3 separate regions of the Homo sapiens genome follow, and regions 1 and 2 are each linked to region 3. Evidence: fine-mapped expression QTL. A gene starts in region 3. Each other region holds a variant in brackets. All regions are shown on one strand. Distances are between the middles of the regions.

Region 1 (10,436 bases), 52 kb before region 3:
AGTTTGCCTGGCAAGTGGCAGCAGGTAGTGCTGAGGGTGGGGTGTGGTCAGGTCCCAGCAAGGTCCCTAGGCCTCCAGCACTGCAGGGGGTGGGGCAGTAGGTGCACTTGGGGCTACTTGGGCCACAGGCAGACACACAGGTCCTGTATACTCTGCCGTTGATCTTAGTTCTTGGTCCCTGGCTGTGACTCTCTCAGTCTGTCTCTAAAAGCCACCCATTCACTTGGCGGGAACAGGATGGAGGAAGCTTTGTCCACCCAAGCTCTTAGCCACTGAGGAACCAGGGACTCCCCCCACCCCACCCACAGCAGAGGAGGAGACTGTCACCCCAGAGCCTGAGTGCTGCCTCCCCTACATCCCGTTGTGCTGTGGGGGGAGGCAGGACCGGGCAGATGGGGGCAAGGTACAGGCCAGGGAGTAGTCTCATCTTCCCAGCATCTCAGGCCAGGAATCCCAGCCTAGGAGTTGAGCGAGGAGGGGAAGGGGTCAGCAGGTTCTGGCCAGGCCACTGCTGATACACCCTGCCTAAGAGTGCTCTGCAAGGTGCTTTGGGGAAGGCAAAGGATTGGGCCCTTTGATGGTGTCCCTGGTACCTGATGCTCTCAGGCAGCCCTTCCCTCAGCTACAGGTGCAGGGTGGAACCCCGTCTGCCCAGCCCCACCCAGCCCTTCTAGCTTGAAGCTCTCGTTCTTACTAAACCCCAACCCCACCCTCACCCTGATGTTACTTCTTGGGGCTGTGGCTGCTCTTGGTGGCTGGGGAGGAAGAATCTTTCTGGAATAACCAAACATTTGCTGGGCTGGTTCTTCTGTGCCGGCCTCTGTGCACATTTACAAGGCTTGAAAGGCAGCACCACACCAGTCTGAGCAAAGGCCTAAAGGTGGGGTCATCTCAGCCTTGTTGGGGAGAAGATATCCTTATGGCTTGGAGGAATCTGGGGGCTCCAAGGCTGCTGACAGCCTCAGGATATGCAAAGGAGGTGATGGCAGCACCTACTGTGTGTGCCCCCGGCGGGAGGAGGAGGTAATGAAGTCTGCACGACATGGCAGGGCAGGGCTGGGCCTCTCGGGGAAGTGGTGTCCACACCAGAGGAAAAGGAGGAAGCAGCTGGGGGAGGAGGAGCCCAAAAGAGGAAGAGGCCAGAGGGCTGCCTGGTGCTAGGGTGGGGGTGAGAGCCCAAGGGCCCCCCAGGGCTTTGCCAACTGGAAGGGTCTAGGAGGTGAACACCTGCCCAGGCTTATCTTTGCACTCCTGTGGGCCATTCTAGTGGCGGTCACTGAGTTGGAGCCAGTCCAGGTAGCTCTGTACCTTGTCCCACCCCAGCAACCATCGGGCCCAAGATCCCAGAGAAGGTGGTGCCTTCGAGAAGGATTCCAGGCCCCTTCTTTGGCCACAGGAAGTTGTGGCTGGGAGAAGGACGCTGGCGGGAGGGCTAGCAGGAAGGCAGAGGGCTGCTCTTAGATTCCCGAGCGGCCATTGCTCTCCAAAGCCGGAAGGCCAGCCACAGGCTGAGATGAATGCCTGGAAATGCAGCAACAGCCCCGAGATGAGCTCACTCTGGGTTTCCCCTGCTGGGGGGCGGACAAAGGATCCCTGGCCTCAGCCTAAGGATTCTCCCCTACCAGCACCCACTCACTGGGTCTAGGGCTGCATTCACTGGGCCTGTTTCCCCTCAGGTGATAACCACAGCTGTCTCTGATTGAGCCTTGACTGTTGTGTGGAGCTGAATTCTTCATTATCTTGTCATATTTAATCCTGTGAGGCTGGGACTGATATTACACCCATTTCACTGATGGACAAACTGAAGCTCAGGGACTTTATGCACTTAAACAGGGAACAGAGATGTCAGGACATGACCCATGTAGTGATTAAGCGCCTGCCTCCAACTGCCATGGCCCTTTGGGAGTCTGTGCTGGCTGGAAGTAACGGATCAGGCAGGACAGCAGGCAGACGGTGTGGGTGCGTGTGTGTTCTGCCTGTGCCTATGGGCCCTGGCTTTCGGGCCTCAATTCTTCTTTTAGGAGGCGGAAAGGGAGCTGTCTGTCCTGGAAGGTGGGACCCAAGACTCTGTGTATGAAGCTTTCTACAGCCATGTGGTCATGGGGGACCCCCTCCACTCCTTTTTTTTTTTTTTTTTTTTTGAGATGGAGTCTCACTCTGTCACCCAGGCTGGAGTGCAGTGGCATGATCTCGGCTCACTGCAACCTCCGCCTCCTGGGTTCAAGCGATTCTCCTGCCTCAGCCTCCTGAGTAGCTGTGACTACAGGTACGTGCCACCACGCCCAACTAATTTTTGTATTTTTAATAGAGACGGGGTTTCACCATGTTGGTCAGGCTGGTCTCGAACTCCTGACCTCAAGTGATTCGCCTGCCTCGGCCTCCCAGAGTGCTGGGATTACAGGTGTGAGCCACTGCGCCCGGCTGCAGCTGCACCTTTTGACTTCCCACTTTTTCTCCTAGTCCGTATCCTCTCACAGTGATGCTCAAGTTATAGCTGGCAATTTAGGACTTCATTCTTTCCCTAATATTATGCTTGTTCTCCCATAAGCCCCAGTCTTAGACTGAGACCAAGCCTGGGGAAGGCTCAGAAGCTATTGAAGTCCATGGTGAGGGCCTCTGAGACTGGGAATTGTCCAGAGGAGTGAAATGAAAGCATGTTCCTTAGGGCTGCACTGTGAGCACAGGCTCAGTGCTGGGTGCACGTACGGTACTGTGTGGTGGTAGAATGTGGCCATGGTGTTGGCTGATGACTGCATGATAGTTGTTGAGGCTGGTTCCTCTTGCTCCTTGGCCTCCGAATCTCAGTGCTGTGGCCTAGTGGGGCCTTGCCCTCTCTTGTAGGGGTTCCTAGGGGTTCTGCTGTGTTGCCAGGCCAGGCCGTAAGGGACTGAGGGGGCTGAGGAAGGCTTAGGAGAGCCAGAGCAGAAGCGTCCAAGCCTCTCTGGGCCATGAAGCCATGCACAGAGCAGAGACCCGTGCATCCTCATGGCCACCCAAGACTGTGGGTCCCAGAGGGTCCAGTTCCTCACCATGAGACCTCAGACTGTCCTCTTCCCTCTCTGTATCCAGCACTAGAATCTGTGATGCTGTGATTTTTTTTTTTTTTTTCTGAGACTGAGTTTCGCTCTTGTTGCCCAGGCTAGAGTGCAGTGATGCAATCTCGGCTCACCACAACCTCCGCCTCCCAGGTTTAAGTGATTCTCCTGCCTCAGCCTCCAGAGTAGCTGGGATTACAGGCATGTGCCACCATGCCCGGCTAATTTTGTATTTTTAGTAGAGACAGGGTTTCTCCATGTTGGTCAGGCTGGTCTCGAACTCCTGACCTCAGGTGATCCGCCCACCTCAGCCTCCCAAAGTGCTGGGAATACAGGCGTGAGCCACCCCGCCCCGCCAGTGCCGTGATTCTTAGCATGGTCTCCTGGCCTGTGGACACAAGGACAGCTGCTGGCTTGGGTTGGGCCCTGAGGCAGTTTGGGGTGACTTTGAAGAGGCTACTCAGGGCAGGCCTTGGGTTTGGCACCCTCCCTCAAGGGGTACATTTCATAGATGAGGCCTAGGCTCCCGTTATCTTTCCCAGAGTCCACCGCCATGAATCAGAAGGGAAAAGAGGTCATTCAGGTGCCTTGGGAACAGCGGAGGGATGCCTGAAATGAAGAGGCCTCCAGGGAGACGGTGCCAAATGGCCCAGCTCCGCGTGATCCGCGTCTTGTCCAGCACCTCCTGGCTCCTGCACAGGCGGTACCTGGGGCCTGAGGCGCCAGCGATGAACAGGTCTGGGGCCTCCTTTATATCAGGCCAGCCTTCCTCACCCGGTGCCTGAGTTTCCCTCTGTGCAGTGGAAAGGGCCCCACTGAGGGAGACACACCTTGCCCCAGAAAGACTTTCCCATGTGTGGGCAGGACCTGAGGCCTCAGTTTCCCTAACACAGAGATCTCTGACTTGGCAGTAGGAAGCCAGGCCCTGCTTGGTAGTGCTCCCCTTTGGGCACTGTGAACCCCTGGAAGCCGCTGGAGGCAGCCGAGTGCCAGAGACTGGCGGGAGGGAGGTGTGGAGTCTGTTGGTCTGTTCAGGCATCCGTTATAGGGCCATGCCACACACA[T/C]GGGTGGGAGTGTTGCCGGTCCCTTTCAAGACCTCGAGTCCCTGCCTCCCAGTGCCGGACCCGTGCTGAGCCTTCTCGGAGGGAATGAGGGGGGCCGGGGAGCAGCACCTGGAGGAAGGAAGAGACGCCAGGGGCGGGGCTCAGAGGGCCTTTGTCTGGCGGGGTCTCTGCCCCTCCCTCCCGTTGCCATGGTTTCTGTGTGTGCCGAGTCTCTGCAGGCTGGGGGCTTCCCAGGGACGGGCTGGTGGGTGGGACACCTTCCCCAGTCGCCCCTGGCTGAGGCTGCTTTTCTGAAACAAAACGCTCCCCAGTGCTGCCCAGCCCCCACTTCCTTCCACAGTGTCTCCGGCTGCCGGGCGCCCCCTGGTGGTGGCGGGGCATGGGTCCCTAGGACTGCAGGGGACGTGGGGGTGCACGGGATCTGAGAACCACAGGCTGAGCTGGAGATGTGGCACCTTCCTGGGATAAGAGAAGGAGGTGGTGTCCGGGCTGCCTTTGTGGTGGGCTCAGGGCTACCCCCACCTGCCCCACCATATCCCACTGGGATAGGCTGGGGAGTTGTGGCAGTGTGGGCGGGCCTGGTGTTGTGGGTTTGAGCTGGGCCGCTGCCCAAGTCTACCCTGTGGTCCCAGCCGCTGCTGCTTCTGAGAATCTCTGCCCTCGGGCCTGCCACGTCAGCTGGCTGCTCTTCCTGGCCCCACGTGTTCCCACGGAGCCCACCAGTATGGGGGTTCTCTCCAGGGAGGTGTGCCTGGCTTTCTGGGTGTGTGCAGCCAGTGAGCAATGTCAGCAGTGAGGCTCCTGGGCAGGAAGGAGGCCCCAGCTGTGTAGGAGTGCCGGGTTATACTGAAGGGAAGTGACGACACAGCGGAAAGCCAACAGAGGAGCCAGTAGCTCTGACTCCTGTCCCAGGTTATGCTGAGTCCCAGCAGGGAACCACCACAGCTCTGAATCAGCCTGTTAGCCGCTGTCCATTGCTCTTCATCTGCTCTTTATCTGAAAATCTTCAGAAGCTTTCCTTCAAATGAGATGACCACAGCAGTCTTCTCTGCAGGTTGCAGGAAATGAGAGGTTTGGGGAAATCTGTACTCTTTCAAAGGGTAGATAAATAGTGATAACTTTTACCTGAATGCTCACATGTGCCCCACACTGTGAGAAGAGCTTTGCATTTAATCCTTACCCATCTCTCAGAAGGAGACAGCGTTGTCCCATTTCACAGATGAGGTGCCAGAGAAAGGGCAGGAAAGGAGCTGAAGCTCTTGAGGATCTCAGGAAGGATCAGAGTGGACATCAGGGCTGTGGCAAGTCTGGACCTCCTTCTGGGAGAGGATCTGAAAATGGGAGGCAGGCTGGCTGGCTGCTTGAGGCTTGACAGCTCTGCCCAGGGGAAACTGAAGCCAGAAAGGATAGTAGCAAGTCCCAGCCTCCCAGCAGATCAAAGCCTATTAAGGAGTTAGAGGGTCCAAGATGAACAGATGCTGTGACTTGAATGCTGGGGCCTGGACTAAGCATCAAGTGACAAGACCTGTGGGCCTGTCTCTCCTGCTGCAGGGGCCCTGCTGGTCTTGTTCACGCAGGTGGAGTGGTACTGTCTCCCTTCTCTCATCGGTTCCCTCCTCTGGGGCTCAGCACTCCCAAAGTGGAAGCAGATGTTCTAGTGCAGAGCAGCTGCCACCACCCAGCACATCACTATGATTACTGCCTACCTGCTGTGGGCCCTAACTGCGCCACAGGGCAAAGGCTGCAGAGGTTTCTTCCTTGGTGGGAAGAGGTGTGACTCAGTGGGAATGCCAAGGCCACCCCAGGGAACCTCTGCAGGCCTCTCTGGTCTTACCCAGCTGGGGACAGAGCACTTGGTGGGGCCCTCTGCGGGCAGGAGGGGCTGATTCATGCCACCTTCTATTGCCTCAGTTCCCCTACCCAGCATCTTTGCAGAAATCTGGACTCAGGCTGGACGCGGTGGCTCACGCCTGTAATCCCAGCACTTTGGGAGGCCAAAGCAGGTGGATCACTTGAGGTCAGGAGTTCGAGACCAGCCTGGCCAACATGGTGAAACCCTGTCTCTACTAAAAATACAAAAATTAGCCGGGCGTGGTGGCACATGCCTGTAGTCCCAGCTACTGGGGAGGCTGAGGCAGGAGAATTGCTTGAACCGGGAGGCAGAGGTTGAACCGGGAGGCAAAGGTTGCAGTGAGCCAAGATCATGCTATTGCACTCCAGCCTGAGCAACAGAGCGAGACTGTGTTTCAAAAAAAAAATCTGGACTCAGCCACCCCTCTGAGAGGCAGGTGCGAGGGGAGCTGGGTGTGTGCAAAACTCACAGATAAGCCTCTTGCCAGCTTATCTGGTAGGGGGCATCCCTCAGGTCCTGATGGAAAGAGGACCCAGCCAGAGATGGGGAGAGTGAAGCTACTACCCCACAGCTGCCAGGGCACTTAGCCTGTGGGCTGCCCGAGAGCTCTTCACCCCACCCATTCCACCCAGATGCCATCCTGGGGCTCCACCCACCTCTGCTCCTGTCCCCCTTCTCTGCTGGAGCTGCTCCTGGGCTGTGCCCCTGCCTCTGTCCCGTTGTTCCCCCTGCTTCCTGCCTGGCTGCCAGCACCACACCCTTGTCCTGCCACTCACTACTTCCCGCCTGAGTCACAGCTGCTGGAAAGACAAAGAGACCAGCCTGAGTCTAGGGATAGGGGCTCCATGACCTTGATTTGCTTACCTGTCAAGTGGAACTCTTTTTTCAGTGACCCCTGCTTGGGATAGAGAATGTTCTCTTAACATTTAAGAGGCCTTAGGAGGGGAAAATGAAACTTGAAGGGGACAGGGAAGTGGGCCCTCCCTGGCTGGGGCAGGGAGCAGATATCCTGGCTCCTAGTGTGACTGGCTCTGTGCTGCCTACCTCATGTCTACCAGGTCTAGCTGCTGCTAGGAAAATCAGATGCAAAGCAAGTTTGCACCCTCGTCCCTGGGCAGGGTCACGAAGCGGCCCACATCACCTACTAAGAGTGGGCAAAAGGCCAGACCCCCTCTTCACTCTCAGTGGCCAGATAGGGAAACTGATGCCTCAAGTGGGCAGGAGTCCCGAAGTCACACAAGATGGGGAAGCTTTCACCCTAGACCTCAGGTCCCCCATGCCCTGGGTAGCTTCCCTGCTGAGTCTGAGCTCGCCTGGCTCGGGACTGCATGGGGACCCATGACTTCGCATCCTTGGCCTCTGCTCCTGCAGTTCCCCCCATCCTGGCTGTGACTGGCTCCTGGTTCTTCCTCCTGCTCTGGAGGAGCCAGTGGGGAAGACAGTCAGGTAGCCACTGCTGCCCTCCCTGCCCCAGTGGGTGCTTTGAGCCCCAGGGGGATGGGCCTTAAGTGTTCAGGCATCGCTGTGAGGCTTTCCTGGGACCTTTCCCCATGTCCTCATTGGCAGGTGGAGGAGTGTTGGTATGCAGATCCTGGCTGCCCCTTTGCCATGCACAGCCCAATGGGGAGGGAGTGGTGCTGGTATATATCCCGGTACACACCCCAGTGAAGATACTGGGCCCGGCCCCTGTAGTGCCCAGGGGCTAAAGCAATAGAGGGGATTGCTGCCCCAGCCACAGCGCCCCAGCCTTCCCAGGGCCTGCACATTTGTATGTCCACAAGATTGTGCAACCATCACTGCTATCTAATTCCAGAACATAATCACCACCCTCAAAAATAAACTTCATACCCAACTAGCTGTCACTCCCCATCTCCCCAGATCCCCTCCCCTCATCCTGGAAAGCAGGCCTGGGACAGTCAGAAGCTCAGTGATTGCAGGCGCCTGATGGCATTTGTGAGGAGGGCTCAGGCCTTTCCCCTCAGGGTGGTCTCTGGCGTAGGGGGCTGAAGGTGGGCAGGGGCCTTGGCAAGGCCTGCCACCATGTCCCAATGCCTGCTGCCGCTTGTTGAGCACTGCAGACATGGCCCAGAGTCTGCCTGGGGAGCTAGGGAGTGAACCCAGTGCCAGGTGGACTGTGTGGCTCCGCTGCAGTACCAGGTACTTAGGACAGCTCTAGGAGGGACTGCACGGTGGGCAAGTGTGCTCCCTGCAGAGGGGACTCTAACCCTGTGACCTCAGCCTCCCTGGACCTCAGTTCCTTCACTGGTTAGATTGGGGTGAGAATGGAACCTACCTCCCAGGATTGCTGTGGAGATGGCAGTTGGTGGGTGTCATTGATGTAGAGCAGCATCTGGCACATGGTGGGCGCTGTTTTCATATAGCTTTGCTGTCGATATTGCCGATGTTATTGTTACTGCTTGTGTTCGTTTGTGTGTTAGCACCTTCATCCTCTGAGGTTGTTTTGACCAGCCCCAAGGGATGCTGTTGAGCTTGGCCAGAGTACCCAAGTTTGACCTCTGCACAGACCTTACTACCCACCCAGCTAAGCTGCACAGAGGAACAAACGTGCCACAGTGATCAGAATTGGGACACTGTGAATGGGGCATGGGGCACGTATTCCCGGCAAAGAGAACAGCATGAGCAGGGCCCTGGAGATAGCTAGAGGTAGTGCCTGGCAGCTGCAGGTGTGACTGGCAGTGATGGAGCAGGAGCACAGGGTCTGGGAAGGACAGCAGGGCCCAGCTGGGGGCCATTCAACCTGGAGCTCAAGACAAGCCAGCAGCAAGGGAGCAAGGTCAAGGTGAGGCCCTGCCTCCACTCCCTCTGGCCCCCAGCCAGGGAGTTGGGTGGCCCCCCTGGTCCTTCTTTACACAGACTCCCTGGGTAATACAGGCTCCTGGGCTGCACTCCTCAAGATCTGGCTCTGTTGTCTGGGATGGGACCTGGGAGTCTGCTTTTTTTTTTTTTTTTTAGACCAAGTTTCGCTCTTGTTGCCCAGGCTGGAGCGCAATGGCACAATCTCGGCTCACTGCAACCTCCACCTCCCAGGTTCAAGCGATTCTTCTGCCTCAGCCTCCCGAGCCGCTGGGATTACAGGCACCTGCCACCACGCCTGGCTAGTTTTTGTTATTTTTAGAAGAGATGGGGTTTCAACATGTTGGCCAGGCTGGTCTCGAACTCCTGACCTCAGGTGATCCACCTGCCTCAGCCTCCCAAAGTGCTGGGATTACAGGCATGAGCCACCACTCCCGGCGGAATCTGCTTTTTTAAACACCTCCCCAAGGCATTGTCCCGCAGGGTCTCAGCCACATTTTGAGAATGGCAGGGTGGACCAGGCATCATGGGTTCCCTCCACCCTCTTGCCCTTCTGAGTCCTGGCTACATGATCTTAGATCAATACTTTATTTTTCTGAGCCTCAATGTCCTCATCTGTAGAATGGGAACAGAAACAGTATCTGCTGTGACTAATACAGGAGAGAATGCAGCAAATCTCAGTACCAGCTAAAGAGAAATATGGGCCAGGGCTGTACCAGGCCAGGGAAAAGCTTGAGTCAGTATGGGCGTGTGTGGGTGTGGGTGTGTGAGATACGCCGCAGGTCTCCCAGATTCATGAGTCAGTACGCGTGTGTGTTACACTGTAGGTCTCCTAGATTCTAGCCTTCTAGCCTCCATCTGCTCAGGGCAGACCTGAGCGCAGTGAGCAGAGGGCGGGGCATTGGGCCATGTCCAGAAAGCTGAAGTGTGACGCTGTGCTCCTGCTTAGGCCCCTGGTTGCTAAGGCTCAGTGTGGGGAGAAGAAGGGCTGCTACCCTGTTGGATGGAGTATGCAGGGCATCTTCCTGCCAGCTCTGCCCAGGGCACCATATTGGCATGCACCAGCTGCACAGGTTGGCGAGCCTATGTATGTGAGAACAGGGTGGCTCCTTCATGGCTGGCCAAGTCTCCAGCCAAGACCCCCCAGGACAGTGGGGAGCCATGGTGGGCAGCAGAGCTTGTGGGAGGCAAAGGCCTGCAGAGAGTCTGCCATGGGGCACAGGTGCTCTAGGTTACCTTGACCACTGTGGCCCTGCCAGCTGCATTCCTGGTAGCTCAACTGCCCACCAGGCCCAGCTGCCTCCATCTCACGGTGCAGCTGGTGGGAAGGTTAGTTCTGCCTCCTGGGCTACAGGTGTCTGGGCATTTGTTCTGTGCCTGTGGAGCCCCTCTGGGCCTGCCCCCTGACCACCTGTGCCCTCTGTTCCAGGTGCTGGGGAGTCAGGGAAGAGCACCATCGTCAAGCAGATGAAGTAAGTGCTGTATTCCAGAGGCAGTGCTCAAACTCCAGCTTCCCCTCTTCACCCTCTGGGCCTGCACTGCCCCCGACTACAGGCCCAGCCAGTCTTAGCCAGGCCCAGAATCTTCTGAGAAGCAGAAGGACCCTCAGGTCCCAGTGGGTCAGGGGCAGTTTTCCCTTCTCTGAAGCAGGTCCCAGTAGCCCCAGGCAGC
Region 2 (10,436 bases), 79 kb before region 3:
GCAGCTGGGCTACCGTGCCTTTGGGACCCCAGGAAAGCTGGCAGCAGCCCTGGCCATCACGCTCCAGAACATCGGAGGTAAGAGCAGTGGGCAGGGGCAGGCAGTAGGGAGGTGGACAGCCCTGAAAGCTGGCTGGTTGGGCTGACCTCAGCGCCTGCCTGCCCGCCCCTCTCCCCACAGCCATGTCCAGCTACCTGTACATCATCAAGTCTGAGCTGCCACTTGTCATACAGACCTTCCTGAACCTGGAGGAGAAAACCTCGTGAGCCCTGGCGTGGGGAGGGGAGGGGAGGGGTGCGGTGCAGTGAGGAGGGGTGGGGTGGGGTGGGGCTGGGTGAGGGTGGGGGGGCCCAGGCTGGGCTGGTGGGAGAGACAAGACAAAGCAGACAAGAAGCTGGTGGAGTGGGGAGAGTTGCCCGCAGAGCCAGCATTCAGTTCACACTCACTTGGGAAGCACCTTGGAGACCCCCCTCCAGAAGGGGCTTGTGGGGCTAGGGGCAGGGTGCAGCTGAGGAAGCTGGGCCTCTCCTCACCCCGGACCCAGCCTGTGAGCGTGGGAGGCTCAGGCTTAGCTCTAAGCGCCTGCTATTCCTGACCATGGGGTTGCCCCCCCCAACCAAGATATTAAGCCCAGGTGTCCCAGTTGCCTATCACTTTAGCCAGCATTGACTGGGCATCAAACGTGTTTTGTGGGACAGAGGGGACACAGCCAGGCCCTGCTCTTGACAGCCCAGCCCGAGCAAGCAGAGGGGCTGGGAGGCTGAGAGTAGCTCCGGCAAGAGGGAGAGCCAGGATTCTGCCGCTGGGGCCCTGGGCCTTTCCCAAGGAGTTGGCCTCAGGGCTTGCCTTTGAGGATGGTCCTGGCCCTTATCCCCTTGTTTCTCTGTGCCCCGTATCCATTCCTGGTGGGTAGAGGAGGGGGCCGGATGAGGCAAGGCCCAGATGCCAGAAGGAACCGCAAGGAGCACAGGTTATTGCAAGTGCCAGAAACCCCCGTGGAAAATACCACCTCCCTCTAGAACCAGGTCCCTCTTCCTCCTCCCACCCACCTCCATCCAAAGGCTGGGCCCAGACCTGTGTATCCTGAGAAAAGCAACAGCAGTGCCTACAATAGAGAGGGTCCTGAGCATGAGCTGTGTGCCAGGCTGGAACCTTAGTTCTCATGTCACCCTGAAGGACAGTACTGAAGGCACGCCCTTTGTTTTGTTTTGTTTTGTTTTGTTTTGTTTGTGAGACGGAGTCTCGCTCAGTCGCCCAGGCTGGAGTACAGTGGCACAATCTTGGCTCACTGCAACCTCTGCCTCCCGGGTTCTTGTGATTCTCCTGCCTCAGTCTCCTGAGTAGCTGAGATTATAGGCGTGTGCCACCATGCCCGGCTAATTTTTTTGTATTTTTAGTAGAGATGGGGTTTCACCATGTTGGTCAGGCTGGTCTCGAACTCCTGACCTGATGATCCACCCACCTCAGCCTCCCAAAGTGCTGGGATTACAGGCGTGAACCACCGCGCCCAGCTGGGCATGCCCATTTTGCAGATGGGGAAAGTGAGACTCAGAGCTGTGGACAAACATTCTTCAGATGTCACTCAGTGGCACCATTGGTAACTCCAGCAGAGGGAGGCAGGGGCCCCATCCCAGGCTGAATGGATTCTGACCCTGGCTCCCGACTCATGTCCCTGCAGGGACTGGTACATGAACGGGAACTACCTGGTAATCCTTGTCTCTGTCACCATCATTCTGCCCCTGGCACTGATGCGGCAGCTTGGTGAGTGTGGAAGGGTCAGAGCCTTGGAGGGGATGTTGGAGGCATACACCATGGGAGGGGCCCCAGGTCTCAGAGTGCTCCCTCCACTTTGCAGGCTACCTGGGCTACTCCAGCGGCTTCTCTCTTAGCTGCATGGTGTTCTTCCTAATTGCAGTGAGTCACCCTCCATGTTGGCTGAGAAAGCGGGCAGCGGGTCTCCTGGGGGAGTTCCCTGTCATCAGGAGGGGGCAGGTGTCTCTGGGAAGCCTGGGCCAGAAGGCAGCTCCACCAGTCCTGATCTAGATGTGGCTTCATGGTGACTTCCCAGGCAGTCCAGCCTGGGAGTCTCTGACACCCTCATCCCTCCCCACTCCAGGTCATCTACAAAAAGTTCCACGTGCCCTGCCCACTGCCCCCCAACTTCAACAACACCACAGGCAACTTCAGCCACGTGGAGATCGTGAAGGAGAAGGTGCAGCTGCAGGTCGAGCCTGAGGCTTCAGCCTTCTGCACTCCCAGCTACTTCACGCTCAACTCACAGGTTCTGACAGGTCAGGGCAAGGCGGGGGCCCAATGAGAGTGGCAGACTGCCTTGACACAGCCCCGTGTTTCCCCAGACAGCATACACCATCCCCATCATGGCCTTCGCCTTCGTCTGCCACCCCGAGGTGCTGCCCATCTATACTGAGCTCAAGGAGTAGGTGTCTGTGGCTGGGAGTGGGGGTGGGGATGCCCTGAGCTGGTTTGGGGAGAATGGATGTGGTCCTGAATGTGGAGAGGGGAGTGACAGGAGCCAAGTCACTTTATCTGAGATGTCCTTGGCAGCCATGAGAGGTGATTATGAGCAAGAAGGAGACTCCCTCAGATGCTGAATGGTGAAAGTATGGTGCCAGAGAGAGCTTGGGGCACATGGGGGTCTCCCAATGTTACCCAGCTTGTCACCAACACCCACCCCCCCACTTCCCCACAGCCCCTCCAAGAAGAAGATGCAGCACATCTCCAACCTGTCCATCGCTGTCATGTACATCATGTACTTCCTGGCTGCCCTCTTCGGCTACCTCACCTTCTACAGTACGGTGGCACCGGTGGGCAGAGGCCTAGGCTAGGCTGGGGGGAAGGGGCTGGTTGTGGCCATGGTGCCCTCCATACCGAGGCGTGTGGTGCCTGGCTGTGCCTTGCCGCTGTGGAGGTGAGTCTGCATGCCAATCCCCACAGTGTTGGGGTCCCCTAGGCAGCTCAGATCCCACCTCCTTCCTGGGGCCACCTACTGACCACCCTCCCTGCCTGCCACAGACGGGGTGGAGTCGGAGCTGCTGCACACCTACAGCAAGGTGGACCCGTTTGACGTCCTGATCCTGTGTGTGCGCGTGGCCGTGCTGACAGCAGTCACGCTCACAGTGCCCATCGTTCTGTTCCCGGTGAGCTGGTGGGCAGGTGGCTAGACTAGTGGCGGGAGGGGCTGATGGGGCCAACAGGCTGATGATTCTTCTCACCTGCCCCCCAGGTGCGCCGCGCCATCCAGCAGATGCTGTTTCCAAACCAGGAGTTCAGCTGGCTGCGGCATGTGCTTATTGCCGTTGGCCTGCTCACTTGTATCAACCTGCTGGTCATCTTTGCCCCCAACATCCTGGGCATCTTTGGGGTCATCGGTGAGGGTCTGGCCCTGCTGTGGAAGCAGGGTATTGCCCCAGAGGATTTCAACTCTGCAAATCCTGGCAGATTCCTGAGCTTACACCCTACATTAAGTGCAGTGGCCATGTGCACAGTTTGGCCTTCCATCTGAGCTTTTGTCCATAGGCTATTCTAATCCCTTTTCAGGGCTCAGAGCCACTGAGTCAGTCCCCCTTGCTGGAGGACAGGGGTGGATCCCAGGGATCAGAGGCCGCCTCAAAGGATCTCACTGGGTCTTGTCCACATTTCACATGTCAGGAAACTAAAGTTCAGAGTGATTAAAGGAGCAGCAGGGCCACACAGCTGGTGAATAGGAGCCTTGGGCTTGATTCAGCCCCAGGATCACTGGACTCCAAGTTTGATGCTCCATCCACTGCCTCATTCCAGATGGGGCTCTCAGCTGGTAGAGCAGACAATTCTGAAATGTCTTTGGGGTGATCCAACTCAGAGGACTAACAAACTCTGCCAGGACTGACAAACAGACCTGGGGGCTGAGTGTCATGGATATCACGGACAGCACTCTTCGTTCTCTATGTCCGAAATCCAACTCGAAATGAATTAAGCAGAAAGGAATCCACTGGCTCAAATAACGGAGAAGCCTTCAAGTATAGCTGCAGCCTGGAGCCCAATACCCTTAAGCCCTCATCTCTCTCCATCTCTTGATTTGCCTTTCCTCATTGCTAGCTTCATTGGCTGACATTCTTCTGACACCAACATCACCAGCCTTCTATCCTCATGGATGGAGAACAAGGGGGAGAGGCTGGTGGGCTAGAATCAGGCAGAGCTCTCCAGTGGTCTCAACATGAAACTCCCTCAACAAGGAGTGTTTGATCTCATTGAAGAGTCCACCCCCGAACCTTAGTCAGTAGGAGGATATGAGCCAGCAGTGGCCATGTCTTGTTCTTTGCAGGTGCCACATCTGCCCCATTCCTCATCTTCATCTTCCCTGCCATCTTCTACTTCCGAATCATGCCCACGGAGAAGGAGCCTGCAAGATCCACCCCCAAAATCCTGGTGCGAGGGGCCTGGAGGCCGGTGGGCTGGTATGGGGCTAAGGGAACTGCCCTGACCTCGGACCTGACCCTGACTTCTGATTCCACAGGCCCTGTGTTTTGCTATGCTTGGCTTCTTGCTGATGACCATGAGCTTGAGCTTCATCATCATTGACTGGGCCTCAGGGACCAGCCGGCATGGAGGAAACCACTAGGGTGACCCTCATCCTGTTCTGTCTACTCACCCTAGCAGCCCTGCCCAGACTCTTCAGCCCCTGCTCCCATCCAGTGGCCAGTCGGGGGAGGAGAAAGACGCGATTAACACTGTGGCATTCAGCCAGGCCCCATGTCCTCTCTGTGGAAGGTTTTTGTTCAAGAGCCAGGACCAAGGCCCTTGGGCCACTACCCTGCTAGGCTCTGGAGCTGTAGAGGCTTCCTGAACTGGGAGCAGGGTAGGGCTGTCGCCTTAGATCCCGCCCAAGCCCCTCATTCCCTCCTTGCAC[A/G]GATGCATACACTGGGGCCCAGCAGCTGCCTCCTGAGGTGACACAGCCTGTAGGAACATACACAGCTGGGATCAGCCTGCAGCCATCCCCCGACCCTGCTGCTAGGCCACGGTCTGCGCCCTGGGGCCTCATCTCCCCCAGCCCACTTGTTTTCCCCCCTTTTATTCCCTAGGCCCTTTTCAGACTCCTGGGCCCTTGGATACTCTTCTCCCATCTCCCTTCACAGGATGACACCCTCCCATACCCCATAGCTGGGGCCAGCAGGTTCTGCTGAGGGTGGGGCTGGTGTAGGGACCCCCAAGAGACCCCTGTCCTGTCCCTTCACCAGTCCTGGGGAGGCTGGGACTCCCCCTGCCACAAGCCTGGGCCACAGCTCACATTCCACTGCTGGGAGAAGAAACAGGCCGAGGCCCAGAGTGGCCTGCCCCCGGGAGCCAAAGACCCCAGTGGCCACACTGGGATAGGGTGGGGAGGCTGGCAGCCCTCTTTTATAAATATTATACATAAGACCAGCTGTGTTTTCTATTCTTGGTCTCCATGGTCCCTGGATTCCTGGAAAGTGAGGTACGGGCCAGAACATGGATGGTGATGGAGGGCCCCCGTCTCCTTGTCTGGGATGAGGGTGGGGACAGGGCAAGTCCCCCACCCACCCCACCCCCTGCCTCCCAAACTAACCAGTGGCACACTCAGACCCAGCTCTGGGCCTGGGCCAGGCTCAGCACAGACCTGCTTTCTCACGGGTTGAGGTGGGGAGGAATTAATGAGGCCCCAGGAAGTGGGACAGAGAGAGGCCTCCGGAAGGAGGCAACGTGAGGTGCATCCCCAGCAGCTTCAGGGAGGGTCTGAGCTGGGGGCAGCTGAGCCCTGAGGGAGCCCCAGGAAGGGCCCCCTGCCCTCCCCTAGCTCCCAGGCTGCCATGTCAACTCTCTGTCAATGCCCTGAGTCTGGGGACAAAAGTCCAGGAATCCTGTGCCCTGTTGGGCTGATCTTTTTATCAACAGTAAAATCCACTACGAATAAAGTGGGTTAGTAGTCCCTGTGTGTGGGGCCCCAAATGGCAAAGAGAGGTGGGAGTCCAAGGTACGGCAGGGGCTGCAAGGAAGCAGGACAGCCCCAGGTGTCCTGGCCCCGGTGAGACTGGGAAGCTGCCCACTGCCTTGGGCAGGCCTGAACCAGCTGGGATCCAGTGGGATGGAGCTGCCCAGGCCTTGGCACCAAACCCTCATTAGGAGAGACCCTGCACCAGGCTAGGCCGCCGGGGAAAGGGCTGCAGGAAAGATCCAGTTTGAATTTGCAAGGCAGCTGCCAGCTCGGGAAAACCCTGAAGAAAGAACTTCCTCAAGCCGGTGGCTGCTAGGCCCACGGCAGTGCCAGCTCAGCCGAGGGGAGCTTCCTGAGTCCTGTTCCCATCAGGCCCAGGCGCCTGACTCCAGGCTGGGGACTCACCCAGGAGCCCTGTGGCCCCAGGAAAGAGCTGGTCACTGGCCTAGAGGTAGATGCAGCGCAGTGTGTTCTGATGAGAGGGGCTGCCCTCTAGAGGTCTCGATGGGGCCATAACCTTGCCTGGAACCCTTGGCTCCTGGGCAGTGGGGGTCAATGAAGGGCAAGTCCATCCTGCAGGCAGACCTGGGGGTTTTCTCTTATACTCCCTCCATCCAAAGAAGGCTGCAGGTCAGAGCAGCAGCAGGACACCAGGTCTGGCTTCAGGCCCCTCAGACCAAGGGGATGTGCTAACAGTAGCACCCCCCATGCATACACATACACACAAATGGGGTGGGGAAGGACCCTGGGCCCTGGCCCCAAGAGGCCAGCTCTGCTTGCCCAGTCAGGCCTCCTCCAGCCTGACCATGGGCAGCAGGCTCCGGCAGGGAGGAGGCAGGTAATGTGACCACTACACTAGATTCAAGAGCCAAGTGTCCACATGACTGTTTGAAAATGAGTATCCCTTGTCCCTGGCTGTTAAATTCCAGACACTTGGCCTCCATGATCTGCAGGCCCTCAGGCATCATTAATCATTTGAGTATGTGTTGAAAATTTTTCCAGTTTTTTTCCTTTGTTACCTTTTAAAAAATTGTTCTGGGGCCGGGCATGGTGGCTCACACCTGTAATCCCAGCACTTTGGGAAGCCGAGGTGGGCAGACTACTTGAACTCAAGATTTCAAGACCAACCTGGGCAACATGGTGAAACCTCGTCTCTAAAAAAAGAAAAAAAAATTGAAAAATTAGCAGGGTGTGGTGGCTCATGCCTGTAGTCCCAGCTATTCAGGAGGCTGAGGCAGGAGGATCACTTGGGCCTGGGTGACTGAGGCTGCAGTGAGTTGTAATTGTGCTACTGCACTCCAGCCTGGGCAACAGAGCAAGACTCTGTCTCAAAAAATAAATAAACAAACAAATAGATAAATAAATAGTTCTAGGCCGGGTGTGGTGGCTCACACCTGTAATCCCGGCACTTTCGGAGGCTGAGGCAGGCGGATCACCTGAGGTCAGGAGTTCGAGACCAGCCTGACCAACATGGAGAAACCCCGTCTCTACTAAAAATACAAAAAATTAGCCAGGCATGGTGGCGCATGCCTGTAATCCCAGCTACTTGGGAGGCTGAGGCAGGAGAATCGCTTGAACCCGGGAGGTGGAGGTTGAGGTGAGCCAAGATCAAGCCATTGCACTCCAGCCTGGGCAACAAGAGCCAAACTCCATCTCAAAGAATAATAATAATAATAAATAAATAAATAGTTCTGGAAAAATTGTTCTGTTTGGAATATTGATAAGTTAGAGCAGCCTGAAGGTCCAGCACAAAGGTCTTCTATATTTCTTTTCACTGTTTTTCTTATGACTGCTTATTATAGAAAAATAAGAGCAGGAAGGGGGGCAAAAGCATGGGTCTCAGTCTCCCTGCCCAGCAGCTGCCCTTGCCCACACCCTTCTCACCTGTGTGCACAAGCACACATTTGCCTCTTGACTCATTCATTCATTCATTCAACAAGTATTTATTGACAGTTCCTACACGCCAGGCACTCATCTAGCACCTGCAAATAAAGCAGTGAACAAAGTGAAGACCCTGGCCTTCCTTGAACTTACTGTCCAGGATGGGGATTAGATCCAAAAAAGCAGCATTAAACCTAACCACTAAATTCTATCATGTGGTTAGAAGATGCTCAGTACTACAGGGAGTAAAAGCAACAAGATAAGAAAAATGGGAGGTGGGGGACGGGGGTCAGAGTGGGCCTGAGAAAGGAACTTTTTTTTTTTTGAGACAGAGTCTAGCTCTGTGGTCCAGGCTGGAGTGCAAATGGCATGATCACAGCTCACTGCCGCCTTGAATTTCTAGACTCAAGGGACCCTCCTGCCTCAGCCTCCTGAGTAGCTGGGGACTATAAGCACATGTCACCACTGCCTGCTTATTTGTATCCTATTTTTTTGTAGAGACAGGGTCTCATCATGTTTCCCAGGCTGGTTTCAAAGTCCTGGTCTCAAGCAATTCTCCCATTTTGGCCTCCCAAAATGCTGGGATTACAGGTGTGAGCCACCGTGTCAGGCATAAGTCTAAGTTTTAAATAGATTATTCCGGCTGCTGCATTAAGACTAGGCTCTGGGTGGGGAATGGGGGGCAAGGGTGACACTGACACAAGGGCTCCTGTAGTTATTCCAAATAATCATGTTGCATGTCTTAGCCCAGGTGATGGTAGAGGCAGGATGAGGCACTAGGCTTGTCCTAAAGGTAGAGGTGGCAGGCTTCCCGGATGGTTCCAGTAGGGGAGGAGAGGCAGAAGTAAGTCAAGGGTGACTCCAAGGTTGTCTAGTGATAGAGGTGCCACTGCAGGAGGCTGGAGGAGGAGCAGGCTTGGGAGAGAGATAAGTTTTGTCCATGAAGAGTTTAAAACATTGACTGGACATCGGCAGGGCATGGTGGCTCACGCCTGTAATCCCAGTACTTTGCGAGGCCGAGGCGCGTGAATCACAAGGTCAGGAGTTCGAGACCAGCCTGGCCAACATAGTGAAACCCCATCTCTACTAAAAACTACAAAAATTAGCCAGGTGTGGCACGTGCCTGCAGTCCCAGCTACTCGGGAAGCTGAGGCAGGAGAATCGCTTGAAGCCGGGAGGCGGAGGTTGCAGTGAGCCGAGACCACACCATTGCACTCCAGCCTGGGTGACAGAGTGAGACTCCGTCTAAAAAAAAAAAAAAAAAAAACATTGACTGGACATCAAAGTGCAGGTGCCGAGTCAACTGCTGGGTGTATGCGTTGAGTTCAGTAGAGTGGCCAGTGATGAAGCTTTGGATCTGGGAAGCAAAGCAAGTGGTGTTTAAAGCCATGGGATGGGAAGAAGCTAAGTTCAGACAGAGGAGGGCGGCAGTAAGCACTGAGCCCTGGAAGATGAGGCAGAACCAGCAAAGGAGCTGGGCGGGAGTAGCCAGGAGGTGAGAGGAAAACTGGGAGAGCATGGGCACCTGGAGCCAGGTAAGTGTCAGATGCTGCCAAGGAGTTGAGGGTAGAGGATGGACCACTGAATTCGGACACCTGTGGATCCCTAAGGACCCTGACCAGGGCACTTTTGTGAGGGAGGGACAGGCCTGCCTGGAGTGGGCAGAGGAGAAAGTGAGGTAGAACTGGAAAGAGCCAGTGTAAACAACTTGTGTGAAGTGAGAGGGGCAGAGCCAACAGTGGCTTTTAAGAAAGACTGGAAAGTTGGCCGGGCACGGTGGCTCACGCCTGTAATTCCAGCACTTTGGGAGGCCGAGGCGGGTGGATCATGAGGTCAGGAGTTTGAGATCAGCCTGGCCAACATGGTGAAACCCCGTCTCTACTAAAAATACAAAAATTAGCCAGGTGTGATGGCGCACACCTGTAATCCCAGCTACTCGGGAGGCTGAAGCAGAATTGCTTAAACCTGAGAGGCAGAGGCTGCAGTGAACCGAGATCACACCACTGCAATCCAGCCTGGGCAACAGAGTGAGACTCCGTCTGTGGGTGGGAGGAAGAAAGACTGGAAAGAAGAAGGTATTGAGGTGAGAGAATGGAAGCAGCTGGTAGGAGGGTAGGTTTGAGCTCAGTGAAAGACTTCCAGGATGGGGGTGCTGGAAACTGAGCTGGAAAACAGTAGACAGAGATTGGATAGTGGGGGTCTGGACATCAGGGAGTGTGCAGCTTGGCCACTGACCTGCCTGGTCAAGTGCTGGTGGCTAGGGACACAGCGGGTCCAAGACGCAGGCAAGGATGGCAAGGAGCCGTGGAGAGACCCAGGGGACAATTCAGATGTCTGCCTAGGCCAGGTGTGGTGGCTCATGCCTGTAGTCCCAGCACTTTGGGATTCACTTAAGGTCAGGAGTTCAAGACCAGCCTGGCAACATGGCAAAACCCTGTCTCTACTAAAAATACAAAAATTAGCCGGTCATGGTGGCACACACCTGTAGTCCCAGCTACTCTGGAGGCTGAGGCACCTCCAGAGAATCGCTTCAACCCGGGAGGCGGAGGTTGCAGTGAGCCGAGTTCGCCATTGCATTCCAGCCTGGGCTACAGAGCAAGACCCTGTC
Region 3 (6,227 bases):
ACAGCCACCCTGTCTCCTGAGCCAGGTGGGGGGTAAAGGCAAAGGACAGGCATCCTCCCATCAATGGCCTCAGGGCCAAGGTGGATCTGGAGACTTCTGCAGGGATAAGGGACCTGCAGAAGAGGTGAGAGGTGAGGGTAGGGGGATCAACAAATAAACTGTCACAGCCATACCCAAGAGAGCCTTTATTCAGCCACACTGACGGCTCTGAGCCAGAGCCACCTCCTGGCCCCACTGGTACCCAGGAAACATGCCCAGGTTAAAGCTGCCCCCCAGGGGCTAGGGGCTGAGGTATGGTCAGTGGGCTGAGGCTTGTAGACTGTCGGGGCAGTCTATTGAACCAGAAAGACAGTTCCTTGCCCTGGATGGCCTCAGATGTCTTTTTCCATCCAGAATATGGGGCGCCCCCTCACATTTTGATATTGTGTCTCCAGCAGGCTTTTTGAAGGGGGCCCTGATGGAACTGGGGGTGAGATGGTCAGGCACTCAGGTAGGGGAGGGGGTGGTGGCAATGGAGGTCCCTTGGGACCCCTTGGGGCAGCTTGGGCAGTCAGGTTTGGGGCCTTCCTGGGTGGCCGGGGAGAGGGGGCTGTGGGGAAGGCATTAAGCAGGGTGGCAGGCAGCCGTCTGCTGGTGAAGACCAGGCCCTGCACAGGCTCACCCAGCTGGTAGCCCAGGTGGGTATAGAAGTGCACCTGGTCATGGGTGGTGAGATGCAGCTTGCGGAAGCCCCGGGCCCGAGCAAAGACCTCCAGGCCCTCCATGAGGCGGCGGCCAAAGCCACGGCCCCTCAGGGCCCGGGCCACCACCACTGTCTCCACTAAGAGGCTCTGGGGCTGGTTCAGCACCCGTGACAGGCGGGCATGGCCCACCACAACGGGTGCTGCTTCAAGTGTGGGGTGGGGGCTTAGCAGCATCAGGCAGAGGGGGAAGGCATCTGAGGACTGGCCCAGGGAGTGCAGGCGGGAGGTGCGGCTGCGGGGCCACTGATCATTGATGAGGTCAGCACAAGCATCCAGGAGCTCGGGTCGGCGGTGCACAGGCTCCAGGGTCAACTCAGCCAGGCTAGGAGCTGGGGTCTCCTCTGGCTGGTGTTCAGGATCCAGGGTAAGCTCAGTTGGACCAGGATTGAAGGTCATCTCTGGTTGGCATGTGGAATCCAGGGGCAGCTTTGGCTGGCACGCAGGATCCAGAGTCAGCTCAGCTGGGCTGGTACTCAGGATCAGCTCCATCCGGTGTGTAGGGTCTAGTGTAGGGGTCAGCTTGGCTGGGCCAGGGCTCAGAGTCAGCTCTTGCCTATGCACAGGATCCAGGTTCAGCTGAGTCAGGCTGGGAGCCAAGGTCACCTGCTGCTAGGTTGCAGGTGGCTCAGTGCCAGGCTGGAGGTTAAGACCCCAGTCTCCAGGCAGTAGCATCTCTTCAGACCACAGTGGCTCTCCTCCTGTAGATAACAGCCATGCTGGGCTGTGCCAGGAGGGAGGGTGGGGTTGGAGCAGGGAAGGGCTGACAGAGTGCAGGGGGGACCATGCATACTGGAACTGGGGAGTGGTGGGCTGCACTTTGTCCCACACTCACCTGATAGCACAGGTGACCTGGAAGAGACCCATCCCCTATAGAGCAGGGCAGATAGATCCAGGTGTCTACCCCACATTGGAGGGAGGCTGGGAGTGATGGATGAGCTGCTTAAGGCTGGGGCAGAACCTAGGAGTCCTGGCCCCAGCCTGCTCTGGCTACAAATTTGTCCTCCTCAGGACCTCCCCTCACAGGGGGTCTGTAACCACCAGGTCTATAAAACAGCCGACCCAATCTACTTGCTGGCCTTCTGTCTTCCAGTAGTCCTCCTAGTCCACCACTAGGGCATGGGATAGAAGATGCAAAGCAGACACTATACCCCCTGCTCAAACCTACCCAAGGTTCCCTCCATAGGAAAAACTGCCCGGGAGTCTTCCTGTCCCTTTCTTCTCCCTATGTTCCGAGTCTCCTCCAGCTCCCAGCCTTTTCAACTACCTGGGCTATGCCCACTGCCTTAGTGGATCCTGGGGCCCCACTCATGCACCCATCAGGCTGAGCTTTGGCCTGTCTTGACTGCCTTCCCCACCTGGAGCCCATGGCCCCCTTCCCAACTCTGCCCATCTCAGGACACTTTGGATATAGACCCAACTGTCTCCTCAGATGGGGCCCCAGCAGCACCAGCACTGGGCCTGGCCCACAGTCACACAGCAGTATTGCCTCTGCAGGCTTGGTTCCCCACTGGCTTGAGTTTCGCAGGCACCCTAGATAAGGACCACAGCTTCCTTCCTATATCCACAGGGTGTCCAACGGTCACCAGGTTGGGGGCCCAGACCTCCTGTGCCCAAACCCTACTGTTTTCCCATCTTAACCAAGGTCCTGCCGTCCGGCAGGTCTATGCTGGGGGTTTTCTAGTCGTGGGCGGGCAGCTGAGCCCCCTCCTTCTACTCACCTGCTCCAGAGGGGGCCTCCTGGCTCCCCTTACCTCTCCTGAGCTTGAGGCCAATTAAACACTGGTCAGTAACAGGCACCCCCCTCCCCTCACCTCCCACACCATTCACAGGGCTGTAAGCCCCTCACCTGCATCAGCCACCTCTGCAGCAGCCGCACCCTTTGGTCTAGAGGGAGGAAGCCCCAGGATCCGCCCCTAGGGCTGAGCCCGGGGCTTCCCCGCGGCCTTAACCCCTTCAGTGCCGACCCCACCCACTGTGGGCGGGGCTCCGGGGTCCTCAGAGAGTGGCTTCTCCGTCTCTCCCGGGCCTCGGTTTCCCCCTCCCTCCTAGTGGGTCACAGGCTGTGGAGCTTTTGGGAATGAGGACTTCGAGAGCTCGACTCTGTGGGCAGGTGTGGCTCGGCATGGTCTGGAAACGAACGACTGACGCGGGGAGGGCGTGCAGGGTGGCATGGCCACTTGGGGACCGCACGCGCGGGGTGGACCTACAGGCAGCAAATGGGAAGGGTGCGGTACTGACATGTTGATGCTGGCCTCTGGGATGTTCCGCGTCCTAGCTCCGCACAGCTGGGTATCTCACTCAGTCGCCACCTCGGACTCCTCGGTCCGACAACGTTGGCCCCCAGCGGTGCGGCGGATGTTCTGCAGCCGTCGCGTCCTGCGGCACGCCACGGCGTTCTAAGGCCTCCCAGCACCCGCGCGTCGCCGCTTAGAACCCGCCCCTGGTTTGCGCGTCACAACACCCGCCAGGCGCCGACTCAGTCTCTACCCTGGCTCCGCCCCTGCTGAGCCCCACCCCATCTCCATTTGAGTCCGCCTCCTCCCCACCCGGCCCCATACAGGCCCCTCCTCCTTCTCCTTGCGTCACAGCTTAGGTCCCGCCTCGATTTGGCTTCTTCCAGGCCCTGCCCCAGCCCAGCACGTCACTTCAGCCAGGCGCAGGCCCCGCCTCCAGCTGGCTCTGCCTCCGCCAGCCCCGCCCCAGGCTCTGACAAGTCTAGCTTCGGTTCCCGCCGGCCTCCTGCCCCAGGACAGCTTGGAAACGGTCCGATCAGGTGGGGCTTCCTCTTGAAATTTGGGCCCCACCCTGGGAAGCAGCCGCCCTTAGACTGACGTCAGATCTGGTGAGAGTGACAAGCCTTTCCTGTGCCCTTTGGATACCGGGGCCTGGACATTTTAGGCGCTCAGTAAACAGCTAAGTAAATCATGACTGCTTTATTTGCTGGACTGGTGCCTCTCAGCAGATTCAGGGGTCGTGCAGGGCTGGTTACCACAAACTCAGTAGGAGTGCAAGGGCTGTACCCCCGGAGCTAGACAGCCTGGGTTTGAATCTCAACTTCTCCCTTTTCTTGCTGTGCAACCTTGGGCAACGTGCTTACTCTCAATGTGAGTGACTCAGTTTCCTCATAGCCTCATTGTGAGGAATGAATAAGTCCACATAAAACGCTTAGCACGGGGATTGGCAAAGAGTAGGCACTCAGTGAATGTCAGCCTTTGTGATTGCTGCAGTTCAAAGACTGGCTCAGTGTCTCTGGAGGAATTGTCTATGACCTTGCCAAGTAGATGCATATGGACATGGAATGAATGGTGTCTGCTGTGGTTCTAACTCCTTATGCCACTATTCCAGTCTGTAAGTATGCATGTGTGTGCAGGGAATATGCCTGTGACAGTGGCTGAGTGTACTCTTTACTGTGACCATGACTTGTATGACTGTGCATGTATTTGAGGAAGCCCTGGCCAGACCCAGAGTGCATTAGGTTCTCAATATGTGCAACTCAGTGTGTGGCCAATCACCACATGCTCTTCCGCTCACACCACGGTGCCTGCCAGCCAGGGTAGCATCGACATTTGAACTCCACAGCCATCTGTGCCTGATCTTCAAGTGAGAGGGCACCCCGCAGGCTCAGGGGCCCACCACCAGGCGTGAGCTGGATGGAGAAACTGGCAGGGTTAAGGAGGAGGAGGGCTTTGGGGTGGCTGGTGCGGCGGACACAGCGGCCATGGCCGGAGCACAGGGCTTGACTGCAGAGAAGGGCCCCACTGGTCACGTTCAGGATGAAGGGCCCCAGTGTAGTGTCCATATACTCCTTGATGGCCTGACATGATTCCTAGGTGGGAAGGGAGGATAGCGTCAGGGACACCATGGCCATGTATGGACCCACCCAGGGCACTGAGGCACTCACCTGCTGGTCAGCCAGGACTTTGCAGGTAGAAAGGGTAAGTCAGGGTCTACCCCGTCAGCTTAATGGCCCCACCCCTCCCCCACCCCCACCCTCATGCCAGGCCTAAGCTCACCTTGGTTCTTGTATTTTCCCAGCTCACCCAGAGCACCACTCCAGCTGCCCCCTGGGCCGCACTCTCCCCCAGGCTGTGCTCCAGCTCATCCTGGGAAGGAGACAGCACAGCTCTGTGGGGCCTCCTTCCCACCATGTGGCAGACTGCTGGAACACCATTAGATGGGACAAATAATTCATAACCTTCACCTGGGGCTGCTCTGGCCATGGGACCAGAGGCAAACTGCTTCCTCCTCTAGCCTATGAATTCCATGCAGACAGGGACTACATCATTCCAATAAATGTTGAATTGCCTGTGCCTGGCACAGAACTTGGCACCAAGTGCACACTCAATGGATGTGCCCATGCGCCAGGCGCGGTGGCTCATACCTGTAATCCCAGCACTTTGGGAGGCTGAGGTGGGAGGATCACCTGAAGTCAGGAGTTCGAGACCAGCCTGGCCAACATGGTGAAACCCCATTTCTACTAAAAATACAAAAATTAGCCAGACATGTTGATGGCATGCCTGTAATCCCAACTACTTGGGAGGCTGAGGCAGGAGAATCACTTGAATCCGGAAGGTGGAGGGTGCAGGAGCTGAGATCTTGCCCCTGCACTCCAGCCTGGGTGACAGAGCAAGACTCCGTCTCAAAAAAAAAAAAAAAAAAAGGATGAATGAATGGATGAAAATGTCCCAAGGTTGGGGGCCGGGCGCGGTGGCTCACGCCTGTAATCCCAGCACTTTGGGAGGCCGAGGCGGATGGATCACGAGGTCAGGAGATTGAGACCATCCTGGCTAACACAGTGAAACCCTGACTCTACTAAAAAATACAAAAAATTAGCTGGGTGTGGTGGCGGGCGCCTGTATCCCAGCTACTCGGAGGCTGAGGCAGGAGAATGGCATGAACCCGGGAGGCAGAGCTTGCAGTGAGCCAAGATCGTGCCACTGCACTCCAGCCTGGGTGACAGAGTGAGACTCTGTCTCAAAAAAAAAAAAACGAAGAAAATGTCCCAAAGCTAAAGTACCCCAAGGCTGGACCTAATATCTGACAAGGCAGGTTGACAAGGTGGGCAGGTTACAGAAGACTCACCAGGGGCAGAAAGTGGTTTGTCGTGTCATAGAAGATCTGGACATAGGGCAGCACCGGCAGATTGGGGTCACCAGCAGCCACAGCCACACGGAATGCCTCGGCCACACGGTGTTGCACATACATCTGTGACTTCCCTGTGCCCTCCAGCACTGCGGGCATGTAGATGCTGGGATAGAGGGCACGGCTCTGGCCCCACAGCCACCCTAGCTGGTCATTTTGGGCACGGATGCCTGATGGGCACTGGCCGGTGTAGTTGGGGCTTAGAAAGTCATAGTTGTAGCAGTCAGGGAAGCCATAGAAGCCCCAGAGGCCGCGAGGACGCAGTGCCCGCCCCAGCTGGAGGGTGCCTGCCATCCAGGCCCGTGCAGCTCCCTGGAACTGGTCCTGGGCTACTGCCTCCAC

The links. PIP is the estimated chance that this variant, and not a neighbour inherited with it, causes the effect.
Region 1: its variant is the best candidate, but not a certain one, in a credible set for the expression of HYAL3 in fetal neocortex (Walker 2019, PIP 0.53).
Region 2: its variant is the best candidate, but not a certain one, in a credible set for the expression of HYAL3 in whole blood (TOPMed, PIP 0.50).

The regions. Positions count from the first base shown.
Region 1 is chr3:50,241,906-50,252,341 of GRCh38, forward strand. GNAI2 (G protein subunit alpha i2) reads left to right here. Exons shown (of 9, transcript NM_002070.4): 2 at 10,195-10,237. Among named protein-coding and RNA genes, the nearest start is that of GNAI2, 11 kb to the left of the region's middle. RefSeq lists enhancers at 783-922, 1,505-2,114, 3,734-4,449, 4,182-4,281, 4,450-5,165 and 2 more. The variant T/C (reference allele first, on the strand shown) is at 4,100.
Region 2 is chr3:50,215,560-50,225,995 of GRCh38, forward strand. SLC38A3 (solute carrier family 38 member 3) reads left to right here. Exons shown (of 16, transcript NM_006841.6): 6 at 1-77; 7 at 181-262; 8 at 1,679-1,761; 9 at 1,856-1,914; 10 at 2,117-2,281; 11 at 2,358-2,437; 12 at 2,711-2,811; 13 at 3,034-3,158; 14 at 3,245-3,389; 15 at 4,322-4,425; 16 at 4,514-5,927. The coding sequence ends at 4,618. Among named protein-coding and RNA genes, the nearest start is that of MIR5787, 6.7 kb to the right of the region's middle. RefSeq lists enhancers at 3,944-4,113, 4,483-4,983, 4,984-5,484, 10,398-10,436. The variant A/G (reference allele first, on the strand shown) is at 4,907.
Region 3 is chr3:50,296,232-50,302,458 of GRCh38, forward strand. It overlaps HYAL3 (hyaluronidase 3), which reads right to left and starts at 3,174. Exons shown (of 4, transcript NM_003549.4): 1 at 2,982-3,174. It overlaps NAA80 (N-alpha-acetyltransferase 80, NatH catalytic subunit), which reads right to left and starts at 3,174. Exons shown (of 2, transcript NM_001200016.2): 1 at 2,982-3,174; 2 at 171-1,441. The coding sequence starts at 1,232. The coding sequence ends at 372. It overlaps HYAL1 (hyaluronidase 1), which reads right to left. Exons shown (of 4, transcript NM_033159.4): 2 at 5,826-6,227; 3 at 4,757-4,846; 4 at 3,662-4,569. The coding sequence ends at 4,252. RefSeq lists an enhancer at 2,768-2,907.